Linked DNA regions of Homo sapiens. The protein of the gene in region 2 interacts with the protein of the main gene of each other region in a pairwise test. Each region holds a gene or a part of one and is shown on either strand. Other genes may lie near its edges. The genes, in order: CNNM3, ZNF330 and RBAK.

What was found.
Region 1: the proteins of ZNF330 (region 2) and CNNM3 interact in binary tests that used the Homo sapiens proteins (3 or more experiments, as listed by UniProt).
Region 3: the proteins of ZNF330 (region 2) and RBAK interact in binary tests that used the Homo sapiens proteins (3 or more experiments, as listed by UniProt).

What each region holds. Positions count from the first base shown.
Region 1 is NC_000002.12:96,819,203-96,822,950, reverse strand, and holds part of CNNM3 (metal transporter CNNM3 isoform 1 precursor), read right to left. Parts: intron 1-3,748. UniProt on the Homo sapiens protein: Probable metal transporter.
Region 2 is NC_000004.12:141,219,044-141,222,791, reverse strand, and holds the start of ZNF330 (zinc finger protein 330), read right to left. Parts: upstream 1,898-3,748; 5' UTR 1,684-1,897; intron 1,636-1,683; exon of another isoform or gene 1,307-1,635; intron 427-1,306; 5' UTR 421-426; coding exon 301-420; intron 1-300.
Region 3 is NC_000007.14:5,043,835-5,047,582, reverse strand, and holds the start of RBAK (RB-associated KRAB zinc finger protein), read right to left. Parts: upstream 1,724-3,748; 5' UTR 1,187-1,723; intron 1-1,186. UniProt on the Homo sapiens protein: May repress E2F-dependent transcription. May promote AR-dependent transcription.

The DNA.
Region 1 (3,748 bases), on a different chromosome or scaffold from region 2:
GCAGCTCACAGTGTGTCTTGCCAACGTCAAGCAGAAAGCCCTGGAAAAGCTTCAAGTTTAATTTTAGTTAGCAGGCTCCAGGGTACCCCAATTATTTGAATGCCAAAGTACCCTTTCATAATGCCCAATTTCTATGATGTTAATAACAGTTGGAATACCTTCTCTCTTCTGTTTTCTAAAGCACCTCAGTGAATGAATGAATACTGTGAGAAAGACAAAAGTAGTGTGCTGACGCTCCTCACTGCTGTTGGAGCTGGTCAGACTCTTTTCCGCATCATGGCAATCATCTGGCTCCCAGCAGACAGGAAACCAGAGCTGGGTTCCTTTAAAGCAGAGACTGCGGCCAGGCACAGTGGGAAACACCTGTAATCCCATCTCTTTGGGAAGCTGAGCTGGGAGGATCGCTTGAGGCCAGGAGTTTGAGACCAGCCTGGGCAACATAGGGAGACCCCAATCTCTACATAAAATTAAAAATTAGCTGGGGATGGTGGTGTTCACCTGTGGCCCCAGCTTACTCAGGAGGCTGAAGTGGAAGGATCACTTGAGCCCAGGAGGTAGAGGCTACAGTGAGCCACGATCACATCACTGCACTCCAACCCAGGTGACAGAGCAAGACTCTGTCTCAAAAATAATAATAATAATGTTCTTGGCCAGGCGCAGTGGCTCACACCTGTAATCCCAGCACTTTGGGAGGCCGAGACGGGCGGATCATAAGGTCAAGAGATCGAAACTATCCTGGCCAACATTGTGAAACTCCATCTCTCCTAAAAACATAAAAAAGTTAGCTGGGCGTGGTGGTGCACGCCTGTAGTCCCAGCTACTCAGGAGGCTGAGGCAGAAGAATCACTTGAACCCGGGAGGCAGAGGTTGCAGTGAGCCAAGATTGTGCCACTGCACTCCAGCCTGGCAAGAGAGCAACACTCCATCTCAAAAAAAAAAAAAAAATAATAATAATAATAATAATGTTCTTTTGTACATTAAGGTCCCTTACTTAACAATGGTTCAAATTACAATTTTTCAAATTTGATGGTTCAAAAGCAATATGCATTCAGTAGAAACCATACTTCAAACACATATAACCATTCTGTTTTCACTTTCAGTACAGCAGTCAATAAATTACATGAGATATTCAACACTTTATTTTAAAATAGTTTTGTGTTAGATGACTTTGCCCAACTGCAGGCTAAAGTAAGTGTTCTGAGCATGTTTAAGGTGGGCCAGGCTGAACTATTTGGTTTGGTAGGTTAGATGTATCAAACACATTTTTGACTTAAGGTATTTTCAACTTACAATGGGTTTATCAGGACATAACTCCATTTGTAAGTCAAGGAGCAGCTGTCCAAGTTATTTATTATGGCTCCAAAGCACTCACTCTTCCTGGTGACGTCTGCACAAAATAATCAGCACGTCATCTCAAGTTGGCACTGATTGAGGGGCGCCTTGCTGGGGAGGTTACCTTGCCCCCAGACTACAAAGTTCCCTAGCAGACACAGCAAAAGAAACAAGACCCGGAATGAAAGCTGCCAAGATGGCAGGGACTCCAGCTCCACGAAATTCAGAGGCTCATTAGCTTGGCAGAGAGATGGAAAGGGAATCGATTTTTAAAACCTCACACGCCACAAAGACTGCAATATGCCCTTTGTTCCTAAGTGGAGGAATGCTTAAGAAGGTTAGGAAGGACAAAAAGGACTTTAACACGGAAAAAATAAAGATATTTGCCAAAGGACTGCACTGAACTAGAGAAGCAGAGAAAAAAGCTCCGGGATGTCACCAGAAAGACATGGCCAGTCTGCCCACGAATGGCCCTCACTCACCACAGGAGCGGGGAAGTCAAGGGGGATTAAAGAGCTCCCCATTTAACCTCCAGGTTCCAAAAACCTCCCCCACTGTCTTCCAAGGGGATCCTTTTCAGCATGTTGTCAGGCAGCTTTTAGAAAGGTCTGTTTCAAGCAGAGGCACTCAACCCCAAATCCTCCTGCATCGGGCTGCTTGTGACCTGCCTGGAGGCCACCCAGCCCAGAACAGGAGCAGCCCGGACCCTGGCCTCTCTAATTTCCTTCCTAGCTACATTTCAACCTGCATTTCAATCTGAACCTACTGGACTTGCCCATCTTAAAACCAAACAGCAGAAGGCCTCCTCCCCTGTCCCACATCCTCTGCCAGTCACTTCTCTCTGCAGCCACACTCTGTGGAGGGCTGTCTACATTGGTTCTCGTACCTTTCCACACCTCATTCATTCCCCAAATGGCTCCCTTGCCGTGGCACCAAATCTGCTCTTGCAAAGGTCAACGGCATCCTGTTTGCTGGCCTCCTCTCCTGTCACTCACCTTCCCTGGGAAAGTGGTCTCTTCCCTTAGCTTCCAGGACATTCCGCATCTCGGGAACTCCTCCTTCCTTGGTCTTGCCTCCTCCTGGCCAGCTTCTCCTGGGCTTCCCTTGCCCCTGACACACCTGTGCTCCTAGGAGGCTGAGGCTCTCTGCCTCCCTCCCATGACTTGAGAGACACTCCTATTCTGCCTCCCACTTGCATTTCACATCAACGGCCTGCTAGGAGTTTGCCTCTTGGGACACTGCACAGACACAAATTCAATGGCCAAAACCTGCTCCCCACGCCCGGCCCTTAGTGAAGGCGCACCGCCACCACACAGCCAGAAATCTGGGCCTCATCCTCAGCTGCTCCTCCTTGTTGCATAGCCCTGCTGCCAGATACCAATCTTCCCAATTCCACCTCTGCTGCCCTCTTGGGGCTCCTCTCCAGGCCTGCCATGAACCTTGTTCAGGTTATCATCCCCTCTCACCTGGATCCCTCACACCGCTGGTCTCCCTGCGCTGGTGTCCACAATTGTTACTGATCTGTAAAAATAACTGATGCTGCTGCTTGATGCTCATGGCCCTGGTGATCAAGTACAAGTTCCTTACACAGCACACAAGCCCCCCCGCCAGGGGACATCCTGCCTCTGCGCTCCTTCCCAACGAACATGAACATTTTTTATTCTTCCCCAAGTGGAATCCCCAACCACCCTGGACCAAGCTCATCCATCGCATCTGAAAGACAAGACCATGGCAGCGAAGATCCTGACACTGGCGGTTTGGAAAATGAAAGACCACTTTCACCAGCCTCATCCTGAGCATCATGACCAACTACAGAAGTTGCCTTTAGTTCTGAACAGGACAACCCTTCCATCTCCGCTGCTCCAAATCTCTGCTTGGTGACTGCTCAACTGTTGAAAGCAGCAGCCAGCTGAAGCCAGACACCAGAGTGAGCTTTTTCTTAAAGAATCTAGAAACGTGAGTGCTTTGAACACCAAAAGGACAGCTACAGTCTTCCACTTTTTCCCTAAAAAAAAGGAAGTCTGGTGACCTGCCTAGAAGAACAGAAATCTGCAATTCCAGATTCACCCCTTGCTCCTGGATTGGCAAACAGCTCACCTACCAGCAGAGCCTGTCCCGGAGTAAGAACCACCTGCTAACGCCAAGCACACAGCATATGCACGCCAGGCACTGGCCAAAGTGCTTGATGAGTCTCCCCCCGCAGGTCTGTTTACCCACTCTTATCACTAACAGCAGAGGACTTTGCACCACAAGAGGCTGAGCAGCCTTCAGGGCCTGGGGGCAGGCAAGGGCAGGATGGAACCTACTCCGCTGATTCCAGGGTTGCAATGTTGGCCACCACACCAGGAGAACCACCCCTGCCTCAGGGGCTGCCTCTGGCAGCCCAGATGGGAGTACTTACCACCGCGAGGCTCTG
Region 2 (3,748 bases):
CCCAATAAGACTAAGGCATTAAAGAAACTGGAAGATGAAAGTTTCTATTATCTATTCTTGTCCAATATCTACCTTTATCACCAACAGTATGTAAAGTAATATGCTAGGTTTTATAATAATATAAAATCCAACAACAATCACTGCCACTCAGTGAAATCAACAGACGTGCCAGAGATACTAAATTCAGCAACAAACTATATGCAAAAACACTGTCTTCACTAAAATTTTATTCAGGTATACGTCAGATAAAATAGTATATAGTTTTTCCAACTACCAACTGATATCAAAAAAAGCTGATACCATTGAGGCATTACATGGATGTTTAGCTAAATCTATAGTGCTTCTTGATGCTCTTAGTTGTTTTTCACGTTCTCGGCGGTTCTCAGCCTTCTTCCTCGCACCAGTCTTTTTTTTAGGCATTTTCCCCTATTTTGACACAAGAGAACAGAAAAGATATAATTGACTGACTGCATTTACTATTTTAATAAACTAAGAAATAGTATAACAAAGTGTCCTTTTTCTTGTTAAATGTTAAACTCTATCCTTTCGATAGTTAAGCACATTCTAAGCCTTATGAAACGTTAAGCACATATTATTCCAAATGAAGCGGGTGATCCTTAACGCATTTATTGGCACTAACGATTCTAAAAATGTAAACGTCAAAAAAATTTACCCTAAAAGACAAACTAGTCTTCTTTTCCCACTAAGAAAAAAGTTTCTCCAATGATAAAGTATTCTGCACCTCATTAAAACAAATGAATCATGTATCATTAGCAAAAACAAAAAAATCATTAATAAGAGCATTATTTAGCCAGTTTATATCACTTTTTTGAGCTATATATTCAGATGACCTGACGCTGCCAACACCTTAAGTATAACAAGTTTAATTTTTCCTATGTAATATGTAAACAAAACATCTAACAGTCAACAAATAACACTATTTATTAACTACAAAGTCAAAACATTCTGAAGATATTTAAGGTATTAGTTGCTCTGACTTTAACAAATGCTCTTCCCTCTACACGCAGTGAGCATGTAATTTTAACGGGGTTCAAATTTACGTTTAAGAGTATGTTTAATTTTCATCATTTAGTTGAAATACAAGATTTTTCTAAACTGAAGTTTTCTGAACTGAATGCTCAATTAAAAAAAAAACAAAACAGGTGGTAAGCAGTACGGTAGCAACTGAAAAATAGCCAGATTTAATAGGTGGTTATTTCGGTAACGTAACGCCCAGACCACTAAGGCACCATTCCAATATGTAAAATGACAAAATCTAGAGGGCGTGCTGCCCTGGCCAAAGAACCTCAGAAAATAATCACGAGGTGATCATGCGGATTAACTTTCTGCGTCCTCAGAGATATCCTCTGAATCCTCTGATAAAGTTAAATCTCATTTTTTTTTCCCTCCAGTTTGTTCTGCACGCTCAAAAGAGTGAATCTTCTTCTCAGCCTTATACGGGTTCAAGCCCTTTTCCGGTAACACTCCAACTTCTTGCATGCACTGCGTGTGTCACCAAATGAGGAAACAGGCACGGGGCACTGCGGCTTTAGGAGTCCAGCCTGGAGCTGGAGGACCCAGTGGGGCGGAGGGGCGTCCAGGGGAGAAGCGGCGGAGGTGCCAGGCGGCTCGGGGACCCGCAACGGGGACCCGCAACCGTCACCCGCCCGCGGGACACCCTACCTCGTGCGCGCTCCGGGCAAACCTCGCTCACTTTCGCCGGGAGACCGGACTCACTCAGGGGGCCGAGGGACAGGGAATGGCGTGAGGCCCACCCGCGACAGCAGTAAATCCAACTCGTGGACCAGGACTCCGGGAAAGAAGGTACTAACAGCCAGGGAGGCTGACAGCCGATTCCGGACACTAGGAGACGGACCGGACGTCCTTTTACGACAGCAGCGCCTTACGGCTGACGTCATAGGACGGGAGCCGCCCACCTCTGTTCGCTCCGCCCCTTCCCCGCCCACTCCTGCGGGGGCCAATGCCCCATTCCTAAGCAGAGGATCTGCAGAAAAGGAAGGGAATGCGAGGGAAAATAGGGAAGCAGAAGGAGGGAAAGCAGGGGAAGGCCCCCTCAGTTTTACTTTTTTAGAAAAAGGAGAAATCTAAAAGGAAGAGGAAAATGAACTCACAGACTTGGTACTGGATCAATTGACTCAAACAGCAAATTCATGTTGAATTCTGTTGGAAACCTTTCCCCACCTCTACATCTTGCGTGCCTCACATCCCACCTTTTCTTGGTTGCTGCGCAAACTGTGCCTTCAGTTGCCTGATGAACTTCCGTACCAGCCTCCCCTGTCTCTTATTTCTGTTATGCCCTCTGGATTCCATTCCTTTGTGAACAAATCATCCCACATTCTCTACCTCTAATGTGTAATCTGCCTGCTTTTAACTGAAACCTGATGATCCTCCCCCTGCATCAGAATCTCCTTCCGATCAAGCACCTCCACCTTTGCATAGCCGACCAAGCTGGGTTTCCTAATCTCTTTCGGAGCTCTGCCGCACTTAGGATTCAGTACCAGGCCTATTCCTGTGCTTTTCCTGCCCTCCCCCTGCAGGAGATAAAAGCCTCTTTATTTGGACCAAAGAGGCCTTCTGGAATTTACTCTTAGATTTTGATAGCCAATTAACCATCTCAGCCTTTTGCTATTTTCAAAGAATCAATTTTACTTAGCAATAACAGTCAATGCCACTGTCATTAAGGTTACTATTTCCCTCATAGTTCTCAAATGCCTGATACATTTTACCTACTCGTATATAAATTAGAATACCACCCCAGTTACGTTAGAATACCACCCCAGTTTCATTACTGATGAAAGTTGTAACTATTGCACTGTTACCTTGTGCCGAGGTCTGTGTGTCCTACACCTACCACCGAGGGGGTCCTCATTGATAGTCACATGGCCTGTGATTCGAATCATAAATCCCATCTTAGCCTAACTTGAACCACTCCTGACACCAACTGTTTTAGGTTGGCTTCCCCAGGAAGCATACTCTGAGTCAGAGAAGAGTATAATGAGTATGTTAGGGAATGCTTTGGGGAACAACATCTGCAGGAGAAATGGAAGCAGGATTGAGCAGAGGGAAGAGTTGACCTGCAGTGACGTCTCAGTGAAGGCCTCGTTTTGAATCTGGGATATCCCTTCAGAGTTGTCTTGAGTTAGGGGAACTGGGCTGGACCTTTATACACCTATGACATTTAGTCACTGGATGAACGCTGCCAAAGGAGAAGAGTGCAACCTTGGGTTAAAGGACTCCTGAAGATGGCCAAGAGCTGGATTGTGTTGGCTTGCTGCACTCTCAGCAGCTCAGGAAATAAGTCTTTCATTGAGGAAGAGGGATCTGGGTAGTGCCTGCCAGTATTCACTACCAAGAGTGATGGCAAAATAAATATTCTGACAAAGACAAAGAACCTTTACTATTCACAGATACTCAGTGAAAGAATTTCAAAGGGCAGTCTTCACAAGATGAAAATGGAATTTAAAAGGCAGGAGGGAATACAAAAAGTAATAATAATCAATTTATTTAATATATAGGGTAAATCTAAAACATTATATAAAACGACAAAATTATAATAAGCAATTTGGGATATGAAAATTATAAGGAACTGAAATATTCTATAAATTCAATGCAATTCAAATCAAATCCTCATATAGATTTTTTTAATGGAATTTGGTTAATTGCTCTCTCAAATTCATAGGAACAATTAAAGATTGAAAAGCCCAGACCATTTTAGTTATACAAGCAG
Region 3 (3,748 bases), on a different chromosome or scaffold from region 2:
AGGCGAAGCATGCACTTGTAACTTTGTAACTCTAAGATAATCAGGTAGTAATCAGATGAGTGAGACTCTCATGGGTAACATGACTCCTTTTACAAATAGTCTGCCATCATCAAATACAACCTGCAAAAAGAAAAAAAAAATTCCCATTATACAGCTCATGTTTTTTGTGGTTTGTCTGTTTGTTGAGACAGGGTCTCAATCTGCCACCCAGGCTGGAGTGCAGTGGTGCATTCACAGCTCACTGCAGCCTCGACCTCCTGGCCTCCATTGATCCTCCCACCTCAGCCTCCTGAGTAGCTGGGACCACAGGTGCATCCCAGCATGCCTGGCTACTTTTGTATTTTTTGTAGAGTCAGGGTCTCCCTATGTTGCCTAGGCTGGTCTCTAACTCCTGGTCTCAAGGGATACTCTTGCCTTAGCCCCCGCAAAGTGCTGGGATTACAGGTGTGAGCCACTGCATCCGGCCCGCATTTTCTTATTGTCTCTTTAAACTGCTTAAAATCAAAGAAGCCATAGGAATTGAGTATGTGAGCTCTCAGAAATGAAATGAATGTGTATAAAATATGGTTTTGTTTCTAAATTATCTAACTGAACTTGGTTATTGCTGCACCTAATAATCTTCTATTAAGAAAACTAGGATACGGGAGAAAGAACACTGGCCTGGGAGATAAGACTCCTGAGTTCTACTATGAGCAACTCTACCCACAAAGCCAGTGACCCGGTCAAGTCACCCACCTGCTAAGGCCCAGTCTCTTCCCCTAGCAACTGAGGCAGCAAGAGAGAATCCCTGCAGACTGTTCCTGCATTACTACCAGTCTCCAGGGCAGATCTAAGGGGGGAATCAGCAGACACTTAAATGAGAGAACAGAGGCGCTGACGGACGTTTAGAGGAGGTCGAAATCTGGAGCACGGAAAGGAGGAGGAAGGGCTGTTAGGGGTTAGCGGGGAGTGGAGACGACGTCCGCAGCTGAGGCTGGTGACACCCTCCAGGCCCCCATAAGCCTCGTCCTCCCAGATTTCCCATGCAGCGCCTGTTCGGTGCAGCCGGACCCTGCCCTCAAACCCAAACACACGTCTCTCCTGCAAGCGATCGAGACCCTCCCCCTGCCCCACACTCTAAGGTCCCCAACACACGGTGACTTCACTCAGGCCCTTCTCGCTCCGGGCCCGAAAACCCAAGACCTACCCTTCTGGGGCTCCGCAGCCTCTGCCCCACGGCTCCCGAGAGGCCGGGGCGGGGCTGCTGTCGCTGGCGCGCGTCTGCTCGCGAGGTCCCCTCCTGTCCACCTCACTAAGGTTGTTCTGCTCCCGAGGGGCCCGGGCCGGGCCTAAGGGGCAAATCCAGGCGGGTGTCCTTCCCGGGACCCAGATCCGCCTCCCTCGGGCTCACCGTACAGCGGCAGCCTGGGCCAGGCCGCCAGGACACACACGGGCCAGGCCCGCGTCCCGCCGCCCCTTCGCCTCCGCCGCCACCTCCGCCACCTCCCGTCCGGCCCCTCTGGCCCCAGCGCCGCCGGCTCCGGGGCTCAAGCTCGGGGGTCCCCGCTCAAGCCTCCACCCGGCCCGCGCGAACCCTGGCCTGCACACCCCCGCGCCCGCCTAGGTGCTGGCCCGGGCGCTCAACCTCCAGCCCCGCAGGCTCCGCGATTCTCGTCCACTGGAGGCCAAAGCCTGGGAACTAGAGCAAGCGGTGACCTGAGGACGCACAGGAAGCGAGGGCAGTGCAGCGGCGGCGCGCATGCGCGAACACGCACACAGAGAGAGGTGCACACGCGCAGGAGTGCACCGGAAGTCAGCCTCCGGGGCCCACAGCTGGTCCCAGGACAAGCACCCTACTCTATTTCCCATGAGCCTACGCGCCCCCCAAGTTTAGGGGCCGTTTTAAATGTCTCTACCCTGCCTAAAGGTTAAGAAGCTCCAGGCTATGAGCTTTGGGAGCTCTGAACCCCTGATTGAACTTCGCATTTGTCTTTACTCCCTTTTAGGGTCAAGTCCAGGGCTGCCTGACTGGGTCCTGGAGCCCAAGGCCTCTGGGTTAGAACCGAGTTTCCCATAAAGAGAAGGAAAGGAAAGGGTGTATCGTGGTCACTGCGCTGAAATGCTAAGAGAAGTTTCACTCAAATACTAGGACAGGATAAATGCCCAGCGATGCTTTCCAAGGAAGAGAAAGAAAATAGAATTTGTGGCTGGGCGCGGTGGCTCACGCCTATAAATCCCAGCACTTTGGGAGGCCGAGGCGGGCGGATCGCGAGGTCAAGAGATAGAGACCATCCTGGCCAACATGGTGAAATCCCTTCTCTACCAAAAATACAAAAATTAGCTGGGAGTAGTGGCGTGTGCCTGTAATCCCAGCTACTCGGGGGCTGAGGCAGGAGAATAGTTTGAACTCGGGAGGTGGAGGTTGCAGTGAGCCGAGATCGCGCCCCTGGACTCCAGCCTGGCGACGGAGCGAGACTCTGTAGCTTTTCTAGATCACACAGCGAATGCCTAAAAACTGTAGAGAAATCAGGAAATACACAGATCGAACGAAGAAAAGAGATACCTGTGATCTCACCTTCCCCAGGAGGATTATGTTTAGGGTTAGGTTATGTTGACCAAAAAGACTCAAAGTCTGTCAAGAGTTTTATTCTGGGCCTCCTACTTGAGTGACCATGGCTGGTGACACAGCCTCAGGGGGTCCTGAGAACGTGAGCCCAAAGTGGTTGGGTTACAGCTTGGTTTTATACATCTTAGGGAGACAGCAGTTACAGGCAAAGACATAAATCAATACATGAGAGGTACACATTGGGTCAGCCTGGAAAGGCTTTCAGGTCACTAGCAGATTCAAAGATTGGCAGTTGGTTCAGAGTTAAGCGTTGGCTGAACAGTTGGAAAACGACATGAAGAAATGGGCCATTGCGGTGGCTCATGCCTGTGATCCCAGCATTTTGGGAGGGTGAGCTGGGAGGATCCCTTGAGGCCAGGAGTTGAAGGACAGCCTGGGCAACACAGCGAGACCCCCACCTCTACAAAAAAAAAAATTATCCAGGTGTGGTGGTGCATGCCTGTAGTCCCAGCTACTCAGGAGGCTGAGATGGGAGGATTGCTTGAGCCTGGGAAGTTGAGGCTACAGTGAGCCATGATGGTGCCACTGCACTCCAGCTTGGGCAACAGAGAAGAAAAGAAAGAGAGAAAGAGAGGGAGGAAAAGAGAGAGAGGAAGGAGGGAAGGAAGGAAAAGAAAGAGGGAGGGAAAGAAAAGAAAAGCTTGAGTTAAGATAAGGGGCATTGTGGAAACCAAGGTTCTTGTTATGTAGATGAAGCCTCAGAACAGGCTTCAGAGAGAATAGATGATAAATATCTCTTATTGGATCTTAAAAGGTGTCAGAATCTCCAGAAAAGACTTCTTTTCTGTAAGGGAAGGAGATTCTCTACAGAATGCAAATTTCCCCCAAAGAGATGGCTTTGCAGGACTATTTTAAAGTGTGTCAAAGAAAATATATTATGGGATAAAATACTATGATTTCCTTCAGGGACTGCTATCTGTCATGTGATGCTATATCAGAGTCTGGATGGAGTTGGGTATCTTACTGATACAAAGAGCCTGTTCTGTCAGTCTTATGATCTGTATTCTAGTGTTAATGTTGGTCAGCTGTGCCTAAACTCTGAAGGGAGGAGAGTATGACAAGGCATGTCCGACCCCCTCCTTCCCATCATGACCTGAATTAGTTTTTCATGTTTATTTTGGATCTTGCTGGCCGACAGGGGAG